Homo sapiens: one gene and its partners. The protein of the gene in region 2 purifies or fractionates together with the protein of the main gene of each other region. This does not show direct contact. Each region holds a gene or a part of one and is shown on either strand. Other genes may lie near its edges. The genes, in order: LACRT, SLC25A10, SCGB1D1 and CST4.

Region 1 (7,137 bases), on a different chromosome or scaffold from region 2:
CATTCCTATTTCTCCACATCCTCTCCAGCACCTGTTGTTTCCTGACTTTTTAATTATTGCCATTCTAACTACTGTGAGATGATATCTCATTGTGGTTTTGATTTGCATTTCTCTGATGGCCAGTGATGATGAGCATTTTTTCATGTGTCTGCTGGCTGCATAAATCTCTTCTTTTCAAAAGTGTCTGTCCATATCCTTTGCCCACTTTTTGATGGGGTTGTTTGATTTTTTCTTGTAAATTTGTTTAAGTTCTTTGTAGATTCTGGATATTAGCCCTTTGTCAGATGGGTAGATTGCAAAAATTTTCTCCCATTCTGTAGGCTGCCTGTTCACTCTGATGGTAGTTTCTTTTGCTGTGCAGAAGCTCTTTAGTTTAATTAGATCCCATTTGTCTATTTTGGCTTTTGTTGCCATTGCTTTTGGTGTTTTAGTCATGAAGTACTTGCCCATGCCTATGTCCTGAATGGTATTGCCCAGGTTTTCTTCTAGGGTTTTTATGGTTTTAGGTCTAACATTTAAGTCTTTAATCTATCTTGAATTAATTTTTGTATAAGGTGTAAGGAAGGGATCCAGTTTCAGCTTTCTACATATGGCTAGCCAGTTTTCCCAGCACCATTTATTAAATAAGGAATCCTTTCCCCATTTCTTGTTTTTGTCAGGTTTGTCAAAGATCAGATGGTTGTAGATGTGTGGTGTTATTTCTGAGGCCTCTGTTCTGTTCCATTGGTCTATATCTGTTTTGGCACCAGTACCATGCTGTTTTGGTTACTGTAAGCTTGTAGTATAGTTTGAAGTCAGGTAATGTGATGCCTCCAGCTTTGTTCTTTTTGCTTAGGATTGTCTTGGCAATGCAGGCCCTTTTTTGGTTCCATATGAACTTTAAAGTAGTTTTTTCCACTTCTGTGAAGAAAGTCATTGGTAGCTTGATGGGGATGGCATTGAATCTCTAAATTACCTTGGGCAGTATGGCCATTTTCACGATATTGATTCTTCCTATCCAAGAGCATGGAATGTTCTTCCATTTGTTTGTGTCCTCTTATTTCATTGAGCAGTGGTTTGTGGTTCTCAGGAGGGCTTTTTTTAAAAAAGGTTCTTTAAGGAAAAATGTATCTATTATTTACAGAGATTCAAGTATGGACTAGCAACAGCAGGAAGTCTGAAGCAGCGTGTTGGGGGGTGGGGGTGAATAATGTCACCTGACAACAAGAGATGGCGCTCTGAAACAGGGACCAGACAGAAGCTGCAGTCAGAGAGAAACAGCCATTGCCACACCATGCTGCATTAAGTATCCGTGGCTGTAAAAATTATTCAAACATTTGGTGGCTTCACACATGATTTCTTATCCACAGTTGTTATGGATCAGCAGTCCAGGTACAGATGCGCCCTCAGACACAGAGTCTCTAATGAGGCTGCAGTCAAGGTATCATCGAGGCTGCGGTCACCTCAAAACTCAGCTGAGGAAAGACCCACTTCCAAGCTCAGTCACGTGGTAGCTGGCAGGGTTGAGTTCCTCACAGATAGCTGGACTAAGGGCCTCGGCTCCTTACTGGCTACAGGCTGGAGGCTGTCCTCGGTTTCTTGCCACGTAGGTCTCTCCACAGGACAGCCTCACACATGGCCACTCACTTCATCAGAGCAAGCTGAGAAGATCCAGAGACAGAGTGTGTGTAAACAAGACTAAAGTCATAGTCTCAGAACTGACTACCTCATCACTTTGCCATCTTCTATTTGTTAGGAGTGAATCTCGAGACCCAGCCCAGTTAAGCAGAGGAAATTACAGCAGGGCACCAATGCCAAGACGTAGGCATCACCAGGAGCTATCTCTGAAGTCGTCCTACCACACATGCCAAAGCAAGAGAGGGAGCAGGAGGAACAAATGCCTTAATCTCTCCCTTTTCCCACCCTCCCATCTCCCACCTGTGTCTCCCATTGGCCAAACTCAACTCGAAGCTAGAGGGCATGGGAGCCCAGGTGATACAGCCCATAGAGGCATCCTTCCAGACCAGTGCAGAGATGAGAGAGAATAAACCTGAGGCAGAGGGGAGAGAGGTACAACGAGCAGCCCATGAGACAAGACACAGATCAGCGAACTGACAGTCATCATGGAGGTCAGATAACCTAGAAAACAAGACATCACACAGAGCAGCCCCTCACCCATATCCATGAGGTCCGTCAAGACATTGCACAGAGCAGCCTCTCACCCATATCCATGAGGTCTGCCTCTTTAATCTATGCACCCAATTCTTTCCCAGGCTCTATAATTTGGGGTAACATTTCTCTGGGCCCTGTTATAGAATAATGAAAATTTTCTATAAAACAAATGTCCTTACTTTCACCTCATCCCTATTTATGTAAATGCTTGCCTCTTTAATTACTGAGGCCAGGAGGAAGATTTGGGAGAGGAAAGGGCTATGCGGTGACATTTGGAAAGACCCTGCTCTGTGACAGTTCTAGTGTTGACGCCAAAGTTCTCATTTCCTCTTAGAAAAGTCTTGTGCAAATAGCATAATTTGCTCCTGTTGACTTTTTTAATGTGCTCATGGAGACTGCTCGGGATCTAGATCTGTTTGGGATCTGCAGGACTTCTCCTTCTGCAGTGTACACACACGTGCACACACGTATGTGCACATACCCAGGGCACTGGTGCCATCAAAACTTTCTCTTGTTCTTCAGCCTTCCCCATTCCAGGTAAGGCCACCACCACCTTCAAGGCTCCCAGGCCCAGACCCTCAGGCAGGTAGCAATTGCCAAGGCTTTAATGTCCCACCCCATTAATTTTATCTTCCTTTATCTCCTGAAAAGATTAATGTTCTAAACCCTGGCACCCAAAACACCCTCATGTTGAAAACTCTTCAATACCCCCTTCTCACACTCATCTTCAGAGCTACCATGAGGCAGAGAAGCCTCCGGAATCAGCCCACATGGGGCTGGGTGAATGCCAACACCAAGCAAGGGGAAAGTCACAAATTGACATCCAGCACCTTATTCTCCACCCTTCAGCCCCTCAACTGACTCCTGCTCCACGGCCCGTTCTATTAATATCTAGCATTTAGCACCAGCCTGGACAAAAACCTACTTGGAAAGATGGTACAAGAACCCCACACAACTCCATAGAACTTCGCTGTCTAAAAAAATGCTTTGCCGTATATTATCCCACTTAATCTCCACCACTATGCTGTACATAGGAGCCACAACTCCTAGACAACAAATAAAAATCCTATCACTTTTCAAATCCTAACATTTTCATATGACAAAGCCAGAACTCAAAATCCAGACCTCTAGAGTCCCAGATCAGGAAAGGAAGAAACGCCAAGTCAAAGAGAAGCTTCTTTAGAATAATCTGCTTTTCTGGATTATTCACACCATGGGTCAGCTCCCCACTTGAAGTCAGAACCAAGCTCCAATTTCAGTGAACCACCATCATGCTTTGACCAGGAGATTCTCTCAGAAATGTGGGGTCCCATTGAGTAGGCCTGAAGACAGAGATTGACAGGCCTATGTGAGCCTGGAGGAGTTCTTTTTAGGGGCTGGATAATGTCAAGAACAGAGAACAACTCCAGAGAAGGCACACACGCCTTCAAACCCATCCCCTCATGGGGAGAAAGCAGCCAGGAACTCAGGCCTCAAGTGTTCTAGGTGTGGTCTCCCAAGGAAACGGGCTCACTTAGTTTGGGGAAACCTTCAAACCCTGCACTGAGTCCTATGTAGACTGGGACAGAAGGTGGACAATGTAATCCCCTGAGCCCTCAACCTCCTCCTGGAGAGATGACAAGATTAAGATTTCTCTACCAGAACCCTCAACAGACACATCCCAGAATCTCCCCAAGTGAAATGTGCTCTACCTACCGTCCCTGAGAGCCCAGGGGTGTGAACCCAGAGGGCAGGTGTGGTGGGGAAGGGAGGAGGGAGAAAGAAAAGGGATGGCTGGGAGTTAGAGAAAGGCTCCTATCCAGGACCTGCCTGCAAGGATCCCAGGTATCAGCCAGCCCAACCTAGCCCTTGTTGACTTAGCAGGTGACAGTTTGGGGAAGAAGGGGAGGAGGATGCGGAAGTCACACCTCTCCAGGCTTGGTTCCCATTGGCCCTTGATATCCTTAAAAGGGCCCAGCAATTTCAGCATCCTTATTCCCCAGACCTTCTGCAGATTCTGTGGTTATACTCACTCCTCATCCCAAAGAATGAAATTTACCACTCTCCTCTTCTTGGCAGCTGTAGCAGGGGCCCTGGTCTATGCTGGTGAGTATGGCCTTTCCTCTGCGCCCCACAAGAGTCCTCCCAGTCCAAGGAGCCCCTCACTCCTGCCTTCACCCCTCTCCTCCTCTCTCAGTGCTATTCTGGTTTCCCTGCCTCTGCAAGTGACTCCTCTCCCAGTTCTCCACACGTGGCCTCTGCACCCCACTGGCCAGAGGAACCCAGAACTCTCTGGCCTCTGCCTGCCCTCCCAGCTCATCTCCTCACACACCATTGTTTACCCACTATGCCTCAGCTACACTGGCTTCTCTGGTGTCCCCTGCATGTAGTTGAGCAGGGTGTCCCCTACACGAGGGTGCCCAGGCAAGGAGTGGTAGAAGCTAAAATCTGGCCGACACTCTACTTGCCAAGCAGTGAGCCTGGCCCCTGGCTGTGTCTCTTAGGAGGAAGGGATGCCTTTTTTTTTTTTTTTTTTTTGAGACCGAGTCTCCCTCTGTTGCCCAGGCTGGAGTGCAGTGGCACGATCTCTGCTCACTGCAACATCCACCTCCTGGGTTCCAGCGATTATCTTGCCTCAGCCTCCTGGGTAGCTGGGACTACAGGCTCATGCCACCTTGCCCAGCTAATTTTGTATTTTTAGTAGAGACGGTGTTTCACCATGTTGGCCAGGTTGGTCTCGAACTCCTGACCTCAGGTGATCCGACTGCCTTGGCCTCCCAAAGTGTTGGAATTACAGGCGTGAGCCACCGTGCCCTGCTGGGATGCCTTTTTTGATCCACAGAAGCACTATTTGGGCCATGATGATCCTGCTGTTCCTTGAACATCAGGATCTTCCTTCTTGTCCTTTCCTCGTCTAGAATGCTTTCCCTCTCCCTGGCCCCTTCCCCCAACCAACTCTAATGTCACCTGGCCAATGATTTTTCATCTAGAAAATCTCAGTTTACATATAATTCCCCAAAAAGGCCTTCCATGCACATGCGGAACAAATCAGATCCATGTGCCCTTCTCGCACCAGGCTGCACGTTCCCTTCCAGCACTGTCACACCAGCCATTAAATAATTTCGTAAAAGGACAGATGTAAGCTCTGTCAGGGCAGGGGTCTTGTCTGCCCTCTTCAGCACTGCACCTCCATCTCTTGGCACAGAGCTTTGCATAAATGTTGTGTTGAAAGAATAAAGGGAATCAAGGCTGGGGTCTCAATCCTGCAAATCGCTCAAATATGGCCCCATAACCCCCACATACTGTCCTCCTCCACCACAGAGGAGGTTGAGCCCCTCTGACCATGGCCAGCTCCATGACAGACACCTCAGGGAAGCCTACCAAGCCAGGGGCCAGTCAGGAGGAAGGCACTGTTCCAAGAGACATTACACTTCTCAGAGGGGAAGTTATTTCAAAAGCCACAGGAGTTAAACATCAGAGAGTGCCCCAGTAGACCCGCTGATATGGTGGAAGGGCATGTCCAACCCAAAGGGAAATTGATCCCCTTCTATCCATGAGCATTCCCAGGAGATAAGCTTTGGGAATGGGAGGGGAGGGTGGCTCGAGTAGGTCCGGTTCGGTCCTTGCTCTCATCTGGCATGTTTCCCCCATTGCAGAAGATGCCTCCTCTGACTCGACGGGTGCTGATCCTGCCCAGGAAGCTGGGACCTGTGAGTCCTCCTCTCCCTGCTGCCCTAGCCCTCGTTGGGAAGGTTTAACAGTTAGGGATGTGAGTGGTGGCTGGGAGAAGAAGCCAGTGGGAGGAGATCTGGATTCTGTGCTTGGTGGTAATGGGGAGGGGCAGGTAATATAATAAAGAAGGTGGCATGGGTTGAAATGGTACAAGGCTAAGGACAAAAGAGGATGACCCAGAGAGGCAAGGACAATAGGGAGCATGGGGAAAAGGTTATTGTGAATAAAAGGGAGAGAAACATGAGGTTAAGTGGTAAGGGCAATGTCTCACATGGCATTAATACCTTCACCTGCAAACACCTCCCATTACTCCCAATTCCTTAGCAAGATAACCATTATCTGGCCTCTAACCTCATTTTCCAACCCCATTTTCCATGACTCTCTTTTATGTCGCACCCACATCAGCTAAATTGAACTTGTTTCCATTCCCCACACATGCCTTCGCCTGACCTCTTACTCACTGCCTGCCCCCAGGGAAGCCCCTTTGGTACATCCTCTCCTGCTAACATCCTGCCTTCAAGATCCAGCTTCTCTATGAAGTGCTCCCCGATTCTCACCATCCCCTAGTCCAAATCCTTCCCCAACCCTGCCCGCTGCATTCCAAGAGACACACAGCATGCAGAAATGCTATCTCCCTTAAGGGGGCAGCGTTTAAGCCATATCACTTCTGTATCCTGGCACCCAGCACACATTAGGTATCCTGGGGCCCTGCAACCCATTCCAAAAGAAACAAACACTTTCACTTTGCTAAAATCCATCAATTTGTGCATTCACAGCTAAGCCTAATGAAGAGATCTCAGGTCCAGCAGAACCAGCTTCACCCCCAGAGACAACCACAACAGCCCAGGAGACTTCGGCGGCAGCAGTTCAGGGGACAGCCAAGGTCACCTCAAGCAGGCAGGAACTAAACCCCCTGAGTAAGTCTCTGTCTCTATGCCAGATCAACAACCTAGAAAAGTCTCTGGCTGCAGGCCCACATCACACCTCCACGCACAGAGATAAGCCTGGTGAGAAGCAGGTAGACTCAAACAGCTGAACACAAAGGCACAAATGGGATTGTGCATTGCACCCACACACAACGTTTTCACAATAGTAGATGTTGCAGCCTGCACAATACATGGTTTCTGTCCTGGCTCACACAACTTCCTATGAGAGAAGTGCTGGAGCCCTCAGCAAAACTTCTGCACTTTAGGACTTTCTGTAGGGATGATGTCCTGGGTGGAGTGGGGGTGGGGGGCGGGTGCAGGTGGGGCAATGCAGAGTTCTCTTTAAATG
Region 2 (6,932 bases):
GCCAGAGACAGGCCATGTTCCGCACCTGCTTCGGGAAACATGCCTGGTGTGATGGCCCCGTAGGCTGCCATGCCCTCCAGCCTCAGTTTTCCTGGTGGAAGGATCCCTTGGATGGGACCAGAAAGGGGCACCGTGTGTCTGGAAGCTGCCCACTGGCTGGGACTCCTGGGGGAGCGGGAGGGGCAGGGAGTTTCAGGCTCACTGTGCGTGTACACCCTGCCTGGCCCAGGTCCTCTTCCAAGGCCTTCTGGTAGAGTTTCTCTGACTAACCTGCTGTCCCCAGGAAAGGCTGTCCCAAGCCAAGCCTGGAAGTCCCCATTGGCCATGGTATCCATTTTGAGGGGTTAATGGTCTTCCCTCAGGAGGTGACACTGCCACCTGGAGCTGGGTGCATTCTGCCTGGTGCCCTGCTGACCCCAACTGCCTTTCCCCTCTGGAAGGCAGCGAACATCTGAGCTCAGGGACGAGCCCTGCTTGAGGTCAGACAGACATGCTGTCTTCATCCAGGCTGCACCCAGGCCAGATAGACCAGCAAAATCTCTGCCCGCGACTCCTCGCTGTCTACCCTGGCTCAGGCGTCTGCCAGGCCACTCGCAGGAGCCACCGAGAGGCCCTTTCCTCCCTGCCGGGGGACCCCCAAAATAACCTGTGGATGCCAAGCAGCAGGACACTGCGGTGGATGCCAGGCCGCAGTCGGAGGCTGGACGGGGAGCCCTGTCCCGTGAGCTTGCTCAGTCTGCCCCAACCACCCCCTTGGGCCTACCGACATAACTTATGATCCGTTTGAGAATCCATCAGGGATCCTTGTGAGTCCCCGACCTGCAGTTCTAGATTCATCATTTGAAAAAGCCTCTGGCCCTGGATGCATTTCCTGTTTTCAGGATTCCTCGCCTTCTGACTGCTCTCCCAGCATCTCTAGCTCACGGAGTTCACAAACTTCAGTCCCCTACAGCTCCTTGCACTTTTGTTCTATTTTTTTTAATGTTTTATTTACTTATTTATGTATTTATTTTTATGAAACGGTGTCAGTTTGTCACCTGGGCTGGTGGTGCAGTCTTGGCTCACTGCAGCCTCCACCTGCCGGGTTCAAGCAATTGTCCTGCCTCACCTTCCCAAGAAGCTGGAATTACAGGCATGCACCACCACGCCCAGCTAATTTTGTATTTTTATTAGTAGAGATAGGGTTTCACCCTGTTGGCCAGGCTGGTCTTGAACCTTATTTTTATCTTTTTTAATTTTAATTTTTTTTGAGTGAGTTTTGCTCTTGTCACCCAGGCTGGAGTGCAATGGCACGATCTTGGCTCACTGCAACCTCCACCTCCCAGGTTCAAGCGATTCTCCTGCCTTAGCCTCCCTAGTAGCTGGGATTACAGGCGCCCGCCACAACACCCAGCTAATTTTTGTATTTTTAGTAGAGGCAGCGTTTCACCACGTTGGCCAGGATGGTCTCGAATTCCTAACCCCAGGTGATCACCCACCTCGGCCTCCCAAAGTGCTGGGATTACAGGTGTGAGCCACCACACCTGGCCTATTTTTATTTTTTAATATAGACACGATCTCACTCTGTCACCCGAGCTGGAGTGCAGTGGCCTGATCAAGGCTCACTGCAGCCTCAGCCTCCTGTGCACAAGCAATCGTCCTACCTCATCCTCCCAGGTAGCTGGGACTATAGGCACGTGCCATCATGCCTGGCTAATCTTTTGATTTTTTTTAGAGATGTGGTCTCACTGTGTTGCGCAGGCTGGTCTGAAACGCCTGGCCTCAAGAGATCCTCCTACCTTGGCCTCCCAAAGTGCTGGGATTACAGGTGAGAGCTGCCCTGCCCAGCCTTTTTTGTTCTTTGTAAAGCTCTTCAGTTCCTGCTCCTTACCCGCTGGGCCCTGCTCTTTCTGCTTTGGAGCAGTTCTTCCTTCAGCAGGGAGCCAGTGTTCTGTGGGTTGGGGGGTCTCTGCCAGCAGCCAGTTTCAGCCCTGTCTTGCAGGTGGCCTTCGGAGGGACAGGTTGCAGCCCAGGCCCGCCCCCCTCCTTCCTGGAGTGTCTCACAGACTCAGGGGACACTGGCCCTCCAGGCCCTGCTTCCCCCAAGGTTTCCATCCATCGCCTCTTGATTCTTGGTAATCGGGAGCCGATGGATGCAACTCATCTCGGTTTACACTGAGTGAGACAGGCGCTGTGGGCACAGCCAAGTCTGCGGGACTCAGTCAGGTGTGAGCCTGGATGGCCCCGGACAAGGAAGCCTGTCCTCTTGCTGGGAAATTTCCGTTAAGATCGGGCCACTTCCCCTGCTTCCTAACGGTTGAGTCTGTTTGCTCTGGGCCTTTTAAGCCCAGCGTGATCCCTCTGAGTCCCTGCGGTGCATTTGCGCCATCTCCACGCTTCCTGTTGAGCCCCAGCCCAGGCTTGGTGCGGGCAGTGCTGCACTGCACTCTCCTGGTTGCCTCCTGAGCACCTCCACCCGCTTCCCCACCAGGCGTGGCTGTGTTTTCACCCCCAGTGTCCATCTGGCACCCTTCTCGATTGCCAGGTAGTTACGGTCTGTGTGGGCAACACCTGAGGGACCCAACCAAACCAAGGTCCAGGACACACTTCCGGGCAGGGGTACCGCCTCTGGTTAGCTGCTCACTCCCCAGCCCAAATCTTCCGCTGATGACTTCTGGGGTCAGAGGCCACCTAAGGGTCTAGAAAACAGTCTCCTCCAGTTGGCTACCTGCCTACGTTGGGGTTACGGCCCAATAAACCCACAGCCAAGCTGAAAATCCTAAGTGTGCGTCTTGCGCTTCCGACACAGCCAGGGCATCGCTGGATGCGCAGAGGCAGGGCTGGACACATTCTGGTGCTTGAGGGGTTCCAGGGACCACGAGTTGTTTTTCCGGTGCTCCTCACCCTTCGCCCTGGAGGGTGGGGGAGGCCGGACAGCAGTGACCAAGCTGGAGCTGCAGGTCTTCATCCCTGTGGCCCAGCCCTAAAGCAGCCTTGGGGACTTAAATTTCATTTTGCCCAGCAGGTGCACCTGGGCCAGGAACACACCAGCGCCTCCTTGTTCTTCGCAGGGAAGTGGAATCCAAGCAGGGGCCCAGATGCAGGCAGGCATCTCCTGGGAACAAGAGCCCCAGAATCCACCCCGGGGCCCCACTTCCAGGGTGGTTGCCTGGGGCGTCTGGTCAGAGCCAGACCAGAACTGAGCAGGAGCTTCCGGGCATCTGTGTGTGGGAAGGGAGAGGCAAGTCCTTCCTAACCGCCTTTTTTCCCAGTTTTCATTCAGTCTGGCCCCAAGCAGGTTCTTTTTTTCTTTTCTTTTTCTTTTTTTTTTTTTTTTTTTTGAGATGGAGTCTCGCTCTGTCGCCCAGGCTGGAGTGCAGTGGCGCGATCTCAGCTCACTGCAACCTCTGCCTCCCGGATTCAAGCGATTCTACTGCCTCAGCTTCCTGAGTAACTGGGATTACAGGCGTGAGCCACCGCGCCCGGCTCCCGAAGCCGGTTTTCTGTTCTCTTGCAGCTGGGCCGGGGCTGAGCCCTCGGTGGGGGCAGGGGTTGCAGACCTGTGGACGCAGGGCCCACGCCGCACACACGTGGCCCCCGCCAGGTGACTCACGAGCCAGCGCCTGCGCGGCGGGGTGGCCACCGGGTGCAGGTTCAGGGCCAGGGGCCGGGCCTCCTGGGGATTGGCAGGGCGCCCGCCGCGGTCCCATGTGCCTGGGGCCGGTCCCCGGGCGGTGGCCTTCGGCCCTGCGCTCCGGCCTGGAGAAGGGAGGACGCCAGGGGCCCGGGGGAGTGGAGGCGGCCACGCAGCAGCCCCGGAGCACCCGCGCGTCCGCAGGCCGGGCCCACCGCGCTCGGCGCCCCTCGCGGCCGCTTTAAGGCGCCGGGCCCGCCTCAATCGCAGGGGGCGTGGCCTAGCGGTCCCGCCCCCGGGGCGCGCGCGCGCATTGGCTGTGCGGGGTGCGGGCGCGCGGGCGGCGCTTTGAACCGGGCGCGGGGCGCGGGGCGCGGGGCGCTGCGGCCGGTACACGCCGGGGTAGGGCCGGGGTCGGGTTGTGGTCGGGCCGGGATTGGGCTCTCCTGGGCCATGGCAGCCGAGGCGCGCGTGTCGCGCTGGTACTTCGGGGGGCTGGCCTCCTGCGGGGCCGCCTGCTGCACGCACCCGCTGGACCTGCTCAAGGTGAGGCCGGGGCCCGGGACGCGGGGCGGATGGGACCCTGGCGCCGCCGAGACGCCTGCAAAGGCAGCAGCCCGGCCCCACGCACCCGGGGATCGCCGCGCCCGGGGCTCCCTCCTGGAGAGCGCGAGGAGGCCCCCGACGCCCGGATGGCCGATCCCGGGTGGCCCTCCAGTGGTGGCCGCCGAGCTCGAGGCCTGCAGGGCGCAGCCGCGCTCCCCAGCTTCCCAGCCGGCTTCCCAGTTCTCGGCAGGTGGCGATCCAGCCCCAGCTCTACACTTTAATACCTGGTGACCTTGGGGGAGTCACTTGGCCTCTCTGAGCCACCCACCCCCATACATTCAAGAACGCTCCTTCCGCCTAGTTAGAAGTTGTGGGGGGAGTTCTGTGAGGTGCACAGGTGTTGGCATCTAGAGACGTGCTGGCTGTAGCATACCCAGGGTGTGGGCCAAGCCGCCCCCCACCCAGGGGTGTTTAGCACACCGCCGGACGTGTCCCTGGGCAAGTGGGGTGACCCGATGCCCCGGCTTTGGGCTGCTTCCTTCGGAGAGCTGCGTGGGCACTGGAAGCGATGTTAGGACCAGCACACCCCCAGGAGAGATGCCAGGAGACCCTGCACGCGTGTGGTCCTGGCCCTATGAAAGCGGGCGTTTCTCAGCACGAGAAGCAGCCACCGTTTTTTTACTTTTTTTTTTTTTTTAATGCTTATGGGGCAAAATAAGACAGAGCTCTCCTTGTTTCCCAGGGACAGCCAAGGGGCGTTGTTTTCTGACCGTGTCTTGCCACAGAGAACAAAGAAGAAAGGGCCTGAGGCTTTGCACAGTCTGCCCAGCAGGCCCTGCCCTGTGAACCTGGCTGTGGTCACTGGGCAGCCGCCTGTCTAGGGGACCTTTATTTTAGCAGCCTGTCCAGGGGACTTGTATTCCAGCAGCCTTTGAGGGGACTGGCTTTACTAATGAGCAACAATGCTGGTCGCTGCGTGAAGGCCAGGTGAGCAGATGTGGGCGTCTTGGGGCACCTGAGACCTCACTGGTCCTGGGAGAGGCCTTCAGAGCTCCCAGGCCACAGGCAGCCACGGCCAGTGAGATGCAGCCACAGCGACAGGAAGGCGCTGGCATGGGCAGAAGAAGCGAGCCCCTCCTTGGCATCGGGCTCTTCCTTTCCTCCTGGGCGCCGCACAGGTGCCCCTCCCCCAGGGCCTCTCCCACGTTCATCTGGGTGTTGAAGGCGGGACCTGCGTGCTGCTGTCCCTTGTCCGGGGTCTGAGCCCCACTGCCCCTTGGCCCTCCCCAACCAGGCGCTCTCTGGCTGCAGAACACCGCCTGGGGGAGGCGGGACTGCCCTCTGGCCTGGGAGGGCGGGAGGAGCCAGCTGCTGGCAGCATATGGCGCTGTGGTCAGGGTGTGCTCCTGAGGACTGCTCACCAGGCCTCTCTGCCTGGCCGTCGGAAAGATCTTTTAAAGCTTCTTGAGCACTTTGTCCCATGTCCCTACAGTCCCTACCGTCGCATCTGGCCGGGACGGGGGCTGCTACCTGTGTGGCCCAGTCCCTCTGTTCTGCTGGGCTCGCACAATGGGAGGCCCCTCTCTGTCCCCACCCATCTTTGCCGACCCCTGGGCGTGCGTTACGGGGCCGCGCACGTGCAGGTCACACTGAGCGGCGGAAGGACTTCTTTGGGGTCAGTGCTGGGGGTGGGACCCAGGAGCTGGGATCCTGGGCCAGGTGCTGGCCTTCCTGTCTGGCCCTGGCCAATCCCCCTACTGCCGGGAGCTCTCAGCTGGCCAGGCGAGGAGGCAGAGGTCCTGTGAGTGGTGGAGGCCAACAGAATGGGAGGTTGTCGGGCTGACAGCCCCCGAGTGCCTGCCCACAGCTCCTAGGTGCTTTGCAGAGGAGGCCGCTATGCCCTGCCGCCAGCCACACCGTCCCCTTGTCTGCTGCTGAGCTCCTGCTGCCTTTCAAGGCCTTCTATGGCTACCTCCTCAGTCTCCCATGGTCCTGCAGGCTCCCTCGCCGTTTCTGAGCGGCCATAAACGTTTGTCCCTCTTGAGACGTGGTGTGGTGGATAAAAAGTAGGGCTCTGGGGTCTCCTCGCTGGGCCCAAATCCTGATGGCACCAGCGGGTGCGTTACCTCTCCATGCCTCAGTTTCCTCATCTGCAGAAGGAGAATGGCGAGCCCCTGCGGCCAGTGCAGCCAATACTCAGGTGGTACGCGGGGCGCTCGCGGGGCTCGCGGACACTCTCAGCTCCATGTCCACTGGTGTGGTTGCTGTTGGAAAGCAGTGGTGTGAGCTGGTTCCAGGCACGGGTGTGGAGTCCCCGGGCAGGGCCGTGGGAGGCCTTATCACTGCCTCCTGCCTCAGTTTCCCCCTCTCTGGATGAACCTGGCACCGATCCCTCGGGGTCGCTGTGGGGTCTGAGAGCACTCACTCCCGCAGGTGCATCTGCAGACGCAGCAGGAGGTGAAGCTGCGCATGACGGGCATGGCGCTGCGGGTGGTGCGTACCGACGGCATCCTGGCACTCTACAGCGGCCTGAGCGCCTCGCTGTGCAGACAGGTGCGTGGTGTGTGCCAGCCTTGGGCTCCCAGACTGGGGCTGAGTCCTGCAGTGGCATCCAAGCTACTTCCGTCCCCTTTTCAAGACTTTGTGCAAGGAAGGACCCACCAGGCCGAGAGCTGGTGACCCCAGGGTGCGCCTCCCATGGGCACCCACCCAGTTTGCAGGGCTGGGCCTGAGACCGCCACTTACTGGTGGGGAAGCTGAGGCCCAGGGAGTG
Region 3 (7,610 bases), on a different chromosome or scaffold from region 2:
TATACTCCACTGCTTCAAGGGAGTGTTATCTCCCCAAGCAACCTCTGGAATGCCGCTGAGCTGTTATGCTTTAGGGGCAAAAAGACATGAAGGCAATAAGGAGACTTTTCTCCTCAAAGGCCACCCATGGCTTCCCATGGGTGTCTCACACAGGGGAGACCAACTCATCTGGCATCCCAGAAACTCTCTTTCCCACAGAGCTGATTAAGAACCATTGCTGGGGAACTAGTGTGGTCATTTGGAGGTAAGACGACACTCTGGCTTTTTGAGTTGCCAGAGTTTTTGTGCTGATTCTTTCTCATCTGAGTGGACTGATGTTCTTTTAATCTTTGAAGTTGCTGTCCCTTGGATGGGCCTCAGCCTCCAAAGTAACTGGGACTACAGGCATGCACCACCGCGCCCAGCTAATTTTTGTATTTTTATTAGAGACGAAGTTTCACCATGTTAGCCAGGATGGTCTTGATCTCTTGACCTCATGATCCGCCTGCCTCGGCCTCCGAAAATGCTGGGATTACAGGTGTGAGCCACTGCACCCGGCCCGGTTTTTTTCTTTTGCATTCTTTGATGCCCTTGAGGGTTTGACTGTGGTATCAGTTGGGTTCAGTTGACTGGGCTTTGTTTCTGGAAGATTTCAGAAGGCCAAGGTTCAGTTCAGTTCAGCACTCCTGGGCTGCTTGCTCTAACCCTGGAGGCCTGGTACCAGGCCCATTGCTTTGTTCTCCGGCCCCTTGAGGTTAAGCACCCGCTGTGCTGGTGAGGTGGAGGTGTTCCCAGTCTGCTGGCAACAACACCCTGCCAAAGCACTTCATCAGAGCAGTGGCAGCAGGATCTGTGCTCATGTGAATGCATGCTGGCAGCTGTGGTGGCAAATCAATATTGACAGTTTTTCTAGTGGATTGTCTTAAATTTCCCTGATAGTTGAATAACTATCTATAAATAATGACCAATTTATGTTCATGGATTTATCTTTTATATGAATTTTGCCCTTTGTTTGAAGAGAATATTGTTAACATCATGTTTCTCTCCATACAATTTTTTTAATTTAAATAGACAAATAATAATTGTATATATATATTTTTCTTTAATTTTTTTTTTGAGACAGAGTCTCATTCTGTCATCCAGGCTGGAGTGCAGTGGTATGATCTTGGCTCACTGCAACCTCCGCCTCCCAGGTTCAAGCCATTCTCTTGCCTCAGCCTCCCAAGCAGCTGGGATTACAGACACCCAGCACCAAACCTAGTTAATTTTTGTATTTTTAGTAGAGACAAGGTTTTGCTATGTTGGTCAGGCTGGTCTCAAACTCCTGACCTCAGGTAATCTGCCCACCTCAGTCTCCCAAAGTGCTGTGATTATAGGCACGAGCCACTGAGCCTGACCTAAACTTGTATATTTTTATGGCATACAATATAATGTTTTGATGTATGTTTACAATACACACATCAAATACAATCAAATTAATTAACAAATCCATCACTTCACATACTTTTTTTTGCATTAAAAACGTTTATTTTATTTTATTTCATGTTTTTAGAGACAAATTCTTGCTCTGTTGCCCAGGCTGGAGTGCAGTGGCATAATCAGGGCTCACTGTAGCCTGAAACTCCTGGGCTCATGCAATCCTCCCACCTCAACCTCTTTAGTGGCTGTGAATACAGGCACCCACCACCATGCCTGGCTAATTTTTAAAATTGTTTATAGAGACAAGGTCTTGTATGTTGCCCAGGCTGGTCTCGAACTCCTGGCCTCAAATGATCCACCTGCCTTGGCCTCCCAAAGCGCTGGGATTACAGGTGTGAGCCACCATGCCCGGCCAAAATGAGAAGATCTTAAGCCAACCAGGGAAGGAGTAGAGCAGTCATCAAAAGTACCACCTATGAAAACTAGAAAAAGCCCCGAGCAGATGTTAAGAGCTACAGGAATGATAAAAATATGTGGGAAGCAATCCTCTTTCAGATATACACATCCTTCCTAATGGAATATACAGATGAAGGCCAAGCCCACATCAGGAAAGCTCTGTTCAACAGCTATGGAAAATTCCTCACCCATCTGTCATCTGTAAGAACCTAAATTCGTGTCCCTGGGTCTGCAGTCTCAGAGACCATGAGCTGGGTTTCCTCCATTTATTTCAGATAGTGGGGGTGTATCCAGGTTTCCTTAGACAGTTGTGTGTCACTTAGTGACTGGGACACATTCTGAGAAATGCATAGGCAATTGTCATTGTGTGAACATCATAAAATGCAGTTATACAAACCTAGATGGCATAGCCTACTGCACACCTCAGCTATTAATAGGTAAGCCTGTTGCTCCTGGACCACAAACCTGTACAGCATATTACTGTTCTGAACACTGTAGGCAGTTGTAATACAATGACAAGTATTTGTGTATCTAAACATATCAAAACAGAAAAGGTGCAGTAAAAACACAGTATTATAATTTTAGGGGACCCCTGTTGTATGTGGGGTCTGATATTAACTAATATGTCCTTATGTGGCCCATGAATTGTAGTTCTGAAAATCAGTGATTTTTTTTTTTGAGGGGTTGGCTGTGCTTTAAACTAGGAACTGGTAATGATCCATGAAATGTATGACAGGTGGGACAAGGTAATAGTAGTCAACATTTATTGAGCGTTTACTACATGTCAGACCTTGTTAATTTTTTTTTCTTTTTTGAGATGGAGTTTTGCTCTTGTTGCCCAGGCTGGAGTGCAGTGGTGCCATCTCAGCTCACCACAACTCTGCCTCCCTTGTTCAAGAGATTCTCCTGCCTCAGTCTCCTGAGTAGCTGGGACTATAGGCACATGCCACCACACCCAGCTAATTTTTTGTATTTTTAGTAGAGACGGGGTTTCACCATGTTGGCCAGACTGGTCTCAACCTCCTGACCTCAGGTGATCCACCCGCCTCGGCCTCCCAAAGTGCTGGGATTATAAGTGTGAGCCACTGCGCCTGGCCAGACCTGGTAAATTTTACACACACACACACACACACACACTCATTTGAACATCTATCAACCCAATGATGTAGGCACCATTTTTAACCTACTTTTACAAACGAGAAAACTGTGTTTACATAAACTAATTTTCAGAGGGTTCAATAGCCCATAGACATGGATCTGAACCCTCCTAGCCATGGGCTTTGCCACTGGACCTTCCACTCCTTAGGGTTGGAGGCAGAGGTGGCATCAGGGGCTTCCCCACCATTTTGGGTGATGGAAGTGAGAGGCATTGTCGCCCTCAGCTGGGACTCAGCCAGACCTGCCAAGGTGTCTCTGATGACACAGACCATAAGGTCCGCTTCCTTCATAAAGGTCTTTCTGGGTGGTTCTCAGTACTGCTGCCCATCAGACCCACCAGAGCAGTTTAAACAGAAGAGGACCTCGCCCTAGAACTACTGAATCAAAATCCCCAGAAAGGGAAGCAGCCTGCGGGGAGTCAGTATAGTTTAAGAGCCCCAAGTGATTTGATTGCAGAGCAGAGAATGGAAAGCTCTGGCCTGGGCTGTGACTGTTCTCAAATGTGTGTTCACTTAAGAGCCAAATTTCTGGTGATTTCCTACTCACCAAATGATGGCACTGCAGTGGAAGGGCAGAAGGGTGTCTATTGCTTTTGCTGGGGATGGCCTTCGCTTTCCATCAACAATGAGATGACCCAGGCAGCAGAGCTGGGTTAGAAGTGGAAAACTTGAGCCCAGAGGTTAGAGGGAAGTGACCACCCACCCTGTTCATCCATCTCTTCCTTTCCATTATCGTCCCTGCCTAGAAGCGAAGACCAGTATTTCTGATGCCTGTTTGCCTCCAGACACCCCAGCAGCTCCTTGGGTAAAAAAAGTTGGGCAATTTAATCATCCCATCAGCCCTATGAGGAGATATGGGTGGCTAGAGGTCACTGGAGGCTTGCTTTTAGTAGACAGAAAATTTGAACCTGTGCTATGTTGACAACTCCACCCATAAATAAAGACACAGATCTTGGAGTGAGACAGAGTAGAGGACAGGGGGAGTGGTTGTTTTCCCCAAGGAAATCCTCCAAAGGTGGGGTGTATGCAGCTATGTTTTAGGTACCTATGTGGTGAAGATGGTGGGGATGGAAGGGGCTGAGTGGGAGGATAGGTCTGGTTCAGACTTGATCTATGTGCAGCTGAAACACGTGTGGCTGATTGTCAGACATGCAGTGGAGGTCAAAGTGGGGTCTCTTCTGTGCCTGCTCTCCTATAACCAAACCACAGCCCCTAGCTTCCTGCACCCCCGGTTTCTGTCCTCCTGAAATGAGAACTCACATTTGCCCTTGCACTGACATAAAGAACAGAGAGATAATCCTCAAAAGCCCAAAAGCAAACTGAGGTTCCAGGGAACATTGCCAGAGGCACCTGGACACTCACCTGGAGCACAGAGCAGAGTTTCTGCAGGGCTGCCCTCCCGTGCTCCGCCCCACTCAGGATGCAGGGAGGTGTGGGGATGTGACACTGATGGATGGCAGCAGCCCTGGCTAGGAAGGGAGGGCTGGAAGCCAGGCCTCATCACCTGCCAGATGCCCATGTGGGCAGGACCAGCCAGGCTCCCTAGGTACAAATAGCCCTGGGCTCCACGGCTCCACAGGCTCCCGGGGCTGAGTCTAAATCACTCATCATTGGTTAAAGCCGAGCTCACAGCAGAATAAGCCACCATGAGGCTGTCGGTGTGTCTCCTGCTGCTCACGCTGGCCCTTTGCTGCTACCGGGGTGAGTACATCAGTCATGAGTCCAGCACCAGCCCTTGGGACACACCCTTCTCTGAGCACGAGGTCACCTATTAAGGTTAAGGTTGGGGTCTGGAACAAACCAAAATTCCAAACCTTATCCTGTGCTTGTTGAAGGAACTGCTCATAAAGCTCGGGCCTCATTTCATCAAATCCCCAGTACCTAGGAAGTTTTGCAGAAAATCAATGCAGGCGAACGTTAGGAATTCTGCCTGAGCTTCACTCTTGGATGGGATCTGTGTCAGATGATGTAATGTGAGGTCTGGGGTGACTCTGGGCTCAGCCACTTCTCAGCCCTTTCACCGTGGGCAAGATGCTCACCCTCCCCGCGCCTCCTCCTATCTCTGGTGCTTAGAGCTTCTTCCGGGAGTGGCAATGGGAATGGAGTGGGATTATTGTGCCAAGGGTCTAGCTGTGGATGTGAAGCCAATCACTGTACTGTCAGACATTCTCGTCCCCAGACCTTTAGGTGCCAATTGAGCTCACAGCTTCTTACATTGTAAATTCAGACTCATAAAATGTTACATCTCGAAGGATCCTTGGAGAACTCTCAGTCCAAGAAGAGATGGTGCTTTCTGATTCTCTCAATAAGAAGCCTGCAAATGAATTCTTAGAATAAGCAGCACTCAATATATCTTCTAGGGGTCCTACCGTAATGGTGGTAGAAATACTACAATGGTTAGCCTCAGAACTTCTATTTTTCTAAAATTAATTCTGGCTGATTTTTCCCCAGTTCATTTGGGTACTTTCCTTTCCCCTGTCAGGACCGATCCAGACTCTGATTTTTCTCTTTCCTCTTCTTTTCTGAACCTCTCCCTGTTTCCCTGTGACACCCCGATCCTACCCTCTCCAAATTCTCCCCACAGTTTGAAGTCGGGTAGTCAGGGGTCATGTTGAGCATGGTGGGGCGCTTTCTGGATGCATGGTGTTTGCAAAAGACTTAGGTGAATGGAGATTCCAGACCAAGCAAAATGATTACTCCAGGTCTTTCCAAAATTCCCAGTGGGAGCAGGAATGAGCCTCAGTTCCCTCCTCTCATCCTCTCCAAATATTCTAGATGCTGCTGCAGAATATGGGCCAAGTACAATTTCCTGTATAAGCTTCTAATGTGTGTTAAAACTGATTCACATTATTTTATTTTGTTTTAATTTGTTTACCTTTTAGCTCTGTCTGTATTGAATCACATAAGCCTAAATTCTACAACTTGTTCTCAAAACATCACCTTCAACATTTCAATAATTTTAACTTCTTCTGTTCCAGATTTACTCATTTCTCTAATTTCTGATAGGATTCTGACTCTACCATTCCACTTCAAAATTTGATTACTCAAAGCCTCCTCTTCACCAATGTCCAAGACTAATAAAGTGTCACTTAACTGGCATAGAAAAGTGATTATTTTCAAATCTAGAAAAGAGAACGTTGGCCATCCATCCAGAGAAGCTTTGGAAAGTAATGAGTGTGCTTTAAAAAAAAAACAAAGACTGAATGAGTGATCAGGAAGTTGGTTCTCCAGTTCTAGCTCTACCCTTTGCTGTGTGACCTCAAGGAAGTCACAACCTCCTGGGTCTGACATTGTCATTGGCATAGTTATTGAATAGAAGCCTAAAACCCTGGGGTTCCTGTCTGGTCTGACATCAGGGAGGCATGGGAGAAACACTGATTTCCTTACACAAATTATATTTTTATTCTTTTGCTCCAGCAAATGCAGTGGTCTGCCAAGCTCTTGGTTCTGAAATCACAGGCTTCTTATTAGCTGGAAAACCTGTGTTCAAGTTCCAACTTGCCAAATTTAAGGCACCTCTGGAAGCTGTTGCAGCCAAGATGGAAGTGAAGAAATGCGTGGATACGATGGCCTATGAGAAAAGAGTGCTAATTACAAAAACATTGGTAATTTCTGTCTCTTTCATGTGTCCAGGCTTCTGGTCAGCGGCACAGTGTGAAGTGAGGTCAGCTTGCTTGCTGCTCTGTGAGGGACACAGGTGGTGGGGCACCTGCCTTACTGGTCACCGCTTGAGAAGGTCACCTGGGACCACAGGGTGGGTGCTACCATTTCACCTGCAGAATTCAACTCAGCTGCACACAGCCTCCTGCATGTTCCTCCTTCTCAGGTCACCTACCTGGATGCCGTGTCCCCAGAGTGTGCTGAGGACATGGGGAGTGAGCCTGGGTCCAGGCAGGGGTGGTGAAGGGCCAAGCACAACTGTCTCTCCACCTGGGGACTTTCCTGAGGCCAAGTGGACCTCACACAGTCACTGTGGAATGTACTGGGGAGTGTGGGAGCCTTGAACAGGGAGAAGAAGGCAGGGAGGGACCTAGAGCAGGGGCTCCTGCAGATGCTGCGCTGGAGGGCTGGACTTCTCTGCAGCTTCTGCAGAACCAGGAAGGAGCCCCTCCCAGCTCCTCAGACTCCACGCTCCCCTCCTCACCCACGATGCTCTCCTGACCACGGCCAGTGGGCCAAGACCCTCGCTACTCTACCTCCTGCAGTGCCATGGAAGCGGGATGTTCTCACTCTGTCTTTCTCAAGAAATCAGAGGTTTTCCAGGGGCCTCTCAGCCTGGCTGCCTCTGGGTTGCTGTCCTGAGGTTTAGCTGCAAATGCTCATGGAAGCTGCAGGCTCAGGATTGAGGTGCTCAGGCCCTGAGGCAGAATTCCCACATGGGGAGGCTGGAGTCTCCTGGAAGCCAAGCTTCCCAGAGGCCCTCCCAGCCCTGACCAACCTCTCAGCACTGGGTCTTTCATTGCGGGGAACAGGAGACTCCAAGTCCTGGGACAGCCCAGACAATAACCTCTTGCTGCTCTGCTCTGTCCCCCCTCTATGAGGACCCTGGGCCTTATGCTTGTGTCCCCCCAGGGCTATTGGCCTGGCAAGGAAAGGCTG
Region 4 (6,852 bases), on a different chromosome or scaffold from region 2:
TAGAAGCATCCACGTGTCCACCATGTGTGAGGAGAGGGAGAAAAGAAGGAGGGATGGAGTGAAAGAGACGAGCTTGACCCCAGAGAATTCCAGGCACTCCATAAAGGAGACTCCTGGCCTTCCCATTTGAGAAGTCACCAAATCCTGTGGCTGCTCAGTCCCAGCTCCTACCATAGACCAAACTGTTAGTTGCTCAAAACCCAGATGTGCAGAATCTCAACTCTTGGCCAGCTTGTCCTCACCACTTGAACCTTTAGGTGATGCTTTCTGAGCTTGGCCATTTGTTTATTATAGTATTGTTTAGTGTTCACTTATTATTGGTCATTTATTGCAGAGAACTTCTGCCTGTCACCTAATTTCTCATCCTACTAATTCAGATAATCGGATCAGTAGTCACCATGCAGCCTAGGGGAACACAGCTTTCTCTTTCGTCACCTGGCAGAAGGAAAACATGCCCCCTCCTGGGCAGCTGGACTCCTCCAGGTTACATGGGTGCTGGAGGCCCCAAGCTTGTTCCTCAGTCCATGGTTGCTATCTGGCCCCCTCCTAGTGTGTCCTTAAAACTGTGGACTATAGAAATCAAAGTCTTCTGTCATTTTTTTTGAGATAGGGGTTTCACTGTGTTACACAGGCTGAAATTGAACTTCTAGACTCAAGGAATCTTCCTGACTCACTCTCCTAATTAGCTAGGATTACATGTGCACCATCACACCTGGCTACTCCATCATTTTCAAACATGTTTATACACCGCTACTGAAGTCCGCTCATCTCTGCTGGTCTGAAATCCCAGAAACTATGCTTTAGAAAGTAGCCTCTTTCTCCAGATGCACGACAGACACAACATTTACCTAAGGTCATCAAATATCTGGAGCAGCTGGCCAGCTACCTCAACCTGCCACTTCCTATAACTCCATACTGGACATCGCACTTGTACCTCCTCCTAAGAGCAACCTACATTGGTATCTTTCCTACTGGGATTAGAGAGTTTGCTGCATCAGGACAGCTGACCCTCCCTGCAGTGCATGCCAGAGTCCTGACAGAAGATGACCACTGGTGGTGTCATCACATATGGGGCACAGGTCAGCACTCTGGCCTCCCTCCCTCACACTCCACCCACCAGCACATTCTCGCTATTTGGGTTACCTGCATCTCCTTTCTGATGATTAAAAAAAAAAAAAAAAAAAAAACAAGAGGATTGCTTGACTTTCAGTTTACCCTTTGCACAGCATGTATGTCTTCCTGAGTCTGGACTCCCAGCTGTCCCAGGAAGGTGGGAGACACAGAGGAGAACTAACTCCTACCCTTTGGAGATGACCATTCTGCTCACAAACACCTGGTAAGGGACTTCCCTCTCTTTCCCTTCTCTGGGAATCTCTCCCCATTTCCTGTCTAACTAGGAGGCATATGTAAAGCTCTGTTTGAAGACCTTCCCTCCCTCACCCAGCAGTAAACACCATGGGGACACCTGCTGTATCTGCCAGGCTTCATGGCTATTCTAGGGGTGCTGGATTCACAGTGGGGTGAGATGGTCACCAGGACTCAGGTAACAAGGTTCCCTGTCGTAATACTGAACATGAGCACCCATAAGTAATATGGTTCCTGCTGCCAGGTTCCTGCTGATCCATCCCCAGACATGTCCGAGCCCAGGATGACTCTTGGCCAGCTTGTCCTCATCACTTGCACCTTTACGTGATGCTTTCTGCGCTTGGTCATTTGTTTATTATAGTATTGTTTAGTGTTCTAAACAGGTCTGGGCTGACACTGGCCAACCCTCACCTCCACCACTCCCAAGACAGTCCTCTGGGTGTCCTGCTAAGGCCCAGGGTTTCCTGGAGTTTCTGGCCAAGCCTGCCACCTCCCCATAAGGGCATTTGCCACAGGGTCACCTTCAGGCATGGAGGGTGGGGTTGAGAGAACAACGAGAGCAGCTGTCTGTTCAGAGCCTCCTTCCACCCTCCCCACTCCTGGAGACACATTCCAGCCCAGGCCCACAGCATCCCAAGCTGGGGGCTTTGTCAGCCCACAGGACACCCAACTGACCACATCCTCTCAGTCTGTGGAGAAGGAGAACTCACAGTCTTGGCAATGAAGCAACTCAGGTGCCGCTGGAAAGCCACACTGAGCAAAGGATGAAGACACATCAGGGCTCGCTCTGCAGGACTCCATTCCTGGGAAGCTCAAGGACAGGCGACAAAGGTGTCTACAGGGCCGGATGGGGGCTGCCAGGGTGGGGCGGGCACGAGGGTGGCTGGAGAGGCAGGAGGATACCGTCTGGGGCAAGGCAGATGTCACAGGTCTGGACAAAGTGGTAACACAAGTGTATGCATTTATGAAATCCCCCAGATTGGGCACATACTATTAGGCATTTTATTGTATGTAAATTCTACCTCATTTAAGGCAATTTTTAAAATGCCACGTGAGTCTTCCAAGGAGTGCACAGAGGAAAGGAGCCTGAAGCATGGCTGCCTAGGAGAGAAGCAAGAGAGGCCTGTGGGTTCCCACATTCATCCCGTGGCTGCTGCTCCCTCTCCTGACACCCCCACTGCCTCACAGGGGTCTCCGTGCACCTTCCACCGGTCCTCACCCACAGTTACCGTGAGACTCCAGGTGGTTTCCTCCCTTGCTCACATCCCCTCCAGGAGCTTCCTCTTCCTGGAGCAGGCATGTCCCAACCCCACCTCAGGGCCTTTGCACTGGCTGTTCCCCGCTGCCTGGGGCTGCTCAACCTCTCCAGTCTCATAGAGACCACCCTGACCAGGGTCCAGTGGTCTCTCTCTAGCCCCTGTTCTATTTCACTTCCAACAGAGTGAGTATAACTCCCTGATCCTAATTGTTGATCGTAACCTACCATCCTCTACACACACTGTGTAGGAATTTACTGTGCAGTTCCACAGCCACCAGCCACATGTGCCACAGGACACTTGAAATGGGGCCAGTCCAAAATGATTCCTGGGCTAAGTGTAAAAAATACACAGGGAATTTCAAAGATTTACAAAACCAAAAAAAAAAAACACACATAAACGATCTCATTAATAATTGTTCCCGTTAGCTGAAATAATATTGTGGCTATATTAGGTTAAATAAATATTTTAAACATTACTTTCACCCATTTATTCTCATCTTTTAAAATGCATCTACTAGAAATTTTCAAATGCTTGTGGGTTCATGTCACATCTCTGTGGGCAGCAGCTCTGCAATGTCACCTCTATGGCTCATCATCCAGGTTCCGTCTTCAAGCCCTAGACCTCCTGGCATGGGCAGTAACTGGTGATAGGTTTGTTTATTGAATAATGAGTTATGAAAACAGAAGCCAGTGACCTTTTCCAAAAAGGTTAATTCCCTTAAATTTGGCAAAGAAATTCTCCATATTAGGGTGTGGACAGGGTCTTCTGGAACCTTCTGAAATAACCTCTCTGTTCCAGAGATTCAGAGACCGTGACCAAGTGCTCCTGGAAGCCTCTGATATCTGAAGACCCCGGGAGGCCAAGCCCTGTATTTTTCCCCTTTCTGAGCAAACAGGAAGTCACATTGCTTTCACAGTCAAAGGACCAGTGTCACCTCTGTGGAGACCTGGGTGACTCAAGCTTGGGAGCACTGGGGAAGAGAGGCATGGCTCAGGGAGGCTGCAGTGAGGACTGGAGTGGGGAGGAGGGGGAGATGGAGGAGGAGGCCTGGGAGGGGCAGGGGGAACTTAGGCAGGGAGGGAGCTTGTAGTGGTGGGGGAGTGAAAAGAGAGATGGAGAAAGAGGGGATGGGCAGAAAGAGGAGGAGGAGTCAGGGGCAGGGCATGGAGGTGGGTGGGGCTGGGCTGCCAAAGCAGGATAAATGCACACCTGCCTGCTGGTCTGGGCTCCCTGCCTCGGGCTCTCACCCTCCTCTCCTGCAGCTCCAGCTTTGTGCTCTGCCTCTGAGGAGACCATGGCCCGGCCTCTGTGTACCCTGCTACTCCTGATGGCTACCCTGGCTGGGGCTCTGGCCTCGAGCTCCAAGGAGGAGAATAGGATAATCCCAGGTGGCATCTATGATGCAGACCTCAATGATGAGTGGGTACAGCGTGCCCTTCACTTCGCCATCAGCGAGTACAACAAGGCCACCGAAGATGAGTACTACAGACGCCCGCTGCAGGTGCTGCGAGCCAGGGAGCAGGTGGGTGCTGCCTCCACCCGAGGGGTCCTGAGCCCTAGCCTGGTTTGTTGCCGGACCCCCAAGAGCATTCCAAGCAAATCAACACTGACACATTCATGATCTAATGCTCAGATTCATTCAGCTTTCTCTGACTCTCCGCTGATGCCCTTCATGCCTAAGCATGCTCCCGGTCCATGCACTGCAGACAGTTAAAGGAAGTGCTGCAGCTTCCTTTAACCTGCAGCAGCTGCTGTGTCTGTACCATGACCGTGGCATTTCCCAGCGTCCAGCAGGTGTGGATGGAGACTGTGCTGACTCTGGGTGGGCTTGATGCTGCTCAGGATGAGATCCAGGCGGTGAGGCTCATTCTCCTCCCTGAGTCCTCTCCTCAGGGGCCACATGGGAACCTGGCTCCCTGTTCTGCAGAGCCCTTCTTCCTTCCCCAAGTCATGCCCTTGGGCACAGCCCCTTAGGGCTAGTGGCCTTCACCCTCAGGCAGGCTGACCCACCCCTGCAGGCCAGGATGGCTGAGTCCCTGCTGGGGTGGAGCACGCCTGGCCCTGCCTCTACGAGCTGATGCAGAGTTAGACCTCAGCCAGATGAGGACAGCAGTCACCCAGCAGAGCAGAGGAGGGGTTAGGTCCAGAGTGAGCTTCAGCAGGGCAACTGGGCCCAGCTTGACCTGCATCCCATGGCAGAGCAGCAAATAGTGACACAGCCTTTAGAGCTCCTCCACCTTCTAGAAATTCAAAGGAATCCAGACCAGTCCCGTTTCTCCTCCTACAGCTGTCAGCTGGAGCCCTCACCCTGCACAGGAGGTGCACTCCCTGGTGCCATGGTCCCCGCTGGCCTGCATCTCCCTCTTAAGCATGACAGTAACTTGGAGTGAAGCACAGGGCATTGCAGACCATCAGACCTGGAAGCCTATTTTATACATGGGTAAACTGATACTCGAGGGATCTCAGCAGTTCCTCCTGGTTCCAAAGAGTCCCTCATCCCAGGTTTCTCCACAGCTCTGCCACGTAGTGTCTGGGAGAGGCCCTGTGCAGGGAAAGGGTTCAATTATAATCTGCAATTGTAAGACACTCAGGTGTGCTGCTGACTTGAGAAACGTATCTTGAACCTCACACTTGAAATGGTGGCATCTGGGCGGCCCCATTGACCCAAAATATCTGTGTGTGTGAAGCATCTCATTTCCTACTCTAAGTGAAGTAATAAATCTAGGTTAAATGGAGGGAATAAGATTTTCGTGAGTTAGCTGAAATTTTGTCATCAGACAGCCTTCCTAGAAAAGAGTCAGTGTTCCCTCACCCCTGAGCCACAGGTAGCAGAATTCAATGAATCCTCTTACCCAGCACAGAGAAAACGATGTTTAAGAGCGGGCATGAGGCTCAGCACCCTGCCAGCTGACAGGAAGAGGGGGCTTGTGTGCCTTGTGTTGACATGTGGGCAGCTCACGAAGCCCCCAAGCAAGTCCAGTGACTCAGCCACAGTGAAGTGCCTGTGAGTGCATGAACTGATGGGGGCGCTGTCCGTGCTTCCTGTTTTCTCCTGTGTGCAGACCTTTGGGGGGGTGAATTACTTCTTCGACGTAGAGGTGGGCCGCACCATATGTACCAAGTCCCAGCCCAACTTGGACACCTGTGCCTTCCATGAACAGCCAGAACTGCAGAAGGTACGTTCCTGATGCGGGTCCCGGGCCAGTCATGCACTGCAGAGGGGTGCGTATGTGTCAGCCTCTGTCCTACCCATGTTTGGACGGTGTGTGTGTGCAGGTGGGTATGTGGGGAGCCGTGTATGCATGGATGTGTACGTGTTCATGTACTTATGGGGGGGTGTGCATGTAGGTGTGCATGTGGAAAGGTGCACGTGTGTACACACATGTGCCAGTGTGTGCGGGTAGGTGTATGGAAGCATGTGTGCCTGTGTGTGGGTGTGTGGCGGAAGTATGGGGGTTTGTACATAGATCCATGGGGATGAGGGGTCCAAGTGAGTTTACGTAGTTGCCTATGTGTGTGCAGATGGGGTGGTGAGGGAGGGGGTGATGTGTTTGATTTGCTAGGAAGGCTTTAGCTTGGGAATGGTTACTAGAAGGTCAACTGCCTGCTTTGGGGTGTTGCCTGTTGGACAGGAAGAATCACCTGCGGGGCTGGGTGCTGGGCAGGGAGAAGGGGATCTGTCTAATCCCAGCCTCAGGCACCTGCATGCAGCCAAAGCCACAATCAGATTAGTGGGACCTAGAGGCCTGTTAGCTGGGAAGCCCTGGACCTGCCCGGCTCACCCAACACCAGCCTCTCCAAGAACCTGCTGGTTCTTGTGAGGTCTCCACTCAGGGGAGAGCGGCACTCCCCTTGTTGCCCTTGACCCATGCCCCAGCTCTTTGAGGGGGAGTTGCCCTGCCCTGGGTTCTTCCCTCTGGCCCCTCTTAGTGCTGGCCTGGGTGCTGGAGGTGGAAGGAGCTGGGGGAACTGAGCCACCTCCCCATGTCCTGCACCCTTGGGGCTCCCGAGGCCTTGCCCAGGCTGCTCCTCACAGGGCTGTGATGGGACAGGACACTGCAGGCTGGGGTGGGGGCCCAATGCCACCTGGTGACTTGGAGCCTTGGGAGGGGTAATGGTACAGTCACTACTCATTCTAGTTCAGTGCTCTGGGACTCAGCAGGGGTGGGTGAGGGTGCAGTGTCTCACCTCCATCCTCCTCACCCAGGCTGTGACATCTCATGCCTGG

The links.
Region 1: the proteins of SLC25A10 (region 2) and LACRT purify together in Homo sapiens (affinity purification with mass spectrometry; 3 studies listed by BioGRID and IntAct, with this or other methods). This does not show direct contact.
Region 3: the proteins of SLC25A10 (region 2) and SCGB1D1 purify together in Homo sapiens (affinity purification with mass spectrometry; 3 studies listed by BioGRID and IntAct, with this or other methods). This does not show direct contact.
Region 4: the proteins of SLC25A10 (region 2) and CST4 purify together in Homo sapiens (affinity purification with mass spectrometry; 3 studies listed by BioGRID and IntAct, with this or other methods). This does not show direct contact.

Annotation. Positions count from the first base shown.
Region 1 is NC_000012.12:54,631,883-54,639,019, reverse strand, and holds the start of LACRT (extracellular glycoprotein lacritin precursor), read left to right. Parts: upstream 1-4,124; 5' UTR 4,125-4,178; coding exon 4,179-4,236; intron 4,237-5,786; coding exon 5,787-5,840; intron 5,841-6,638; coding exon 6,639-6,779; intron 6,780-7,137. UniProt on the Homo sapiens protein: Modulates secretion by lacrimal acinar cells.
Region 2 is NC_000017.11:81,708,361-81,715,292, forward strand, and holds the start of SLC25A10 (mitochondrial dicarboxylate carrier), read left to right. Parts: upstream 1-3,923; 5' UTR 3,924-4,066; coding exon 4,067-4,159; intron 4,160-4,908; exon of another isoform or gene 4,909-5,146; intron 5,147-6,592; coding exon 6,593-6,712; intron 6,713-6,932. UniProt on the Homo sapiens protein: Catalyzes the electroneutral exchange or flux of physiologically important metabolites such as dicarboxylates (malonate, malate, succinate), inorganic sulfur-containing anions, and phosphate, across mitochondrial inner membrane.
Region 3 is NC_000011.10:62,185,628-62,193,237, forward strand, and holds the start of SCGB1D1 (secretoglobin family 1D member 1 precursor), read left to right. Parts: upstream 1-4,588; 5' UTR 4,589-4,657; coding exon 4,658-4,712; intron 4,713-6,428; coding exon 6,429-6,616; intron 6,617-7,610. UniProt on the Homo sapiens protein: May bind androgens and other steroids, may also bind estramustine, a chemotherapeutic agent used for prostate cancer. May be under transcriptional regulation of steroid hormones.
Region 4 is NC_000020.11:23,686,036-23,692,887, reverse strand, and holds the start of CST4 (cystatin-S precursor), read left to right. Parts: upstream 1-3,849; 5' UTR 3,850-3,918; coding exon 3,919-4,146; intron 4,147-5,686; coding exon 5,687-5,800; intron 5,801-6,852. UniProt on the Homo sapiens protein: This protein strongly inhibits papain and ficin, partially inhibits stem bromelain and bovine cathepsin C, but does not inhibit porcine cathepsin B or clostripain. Papain is inhibited non-competitively.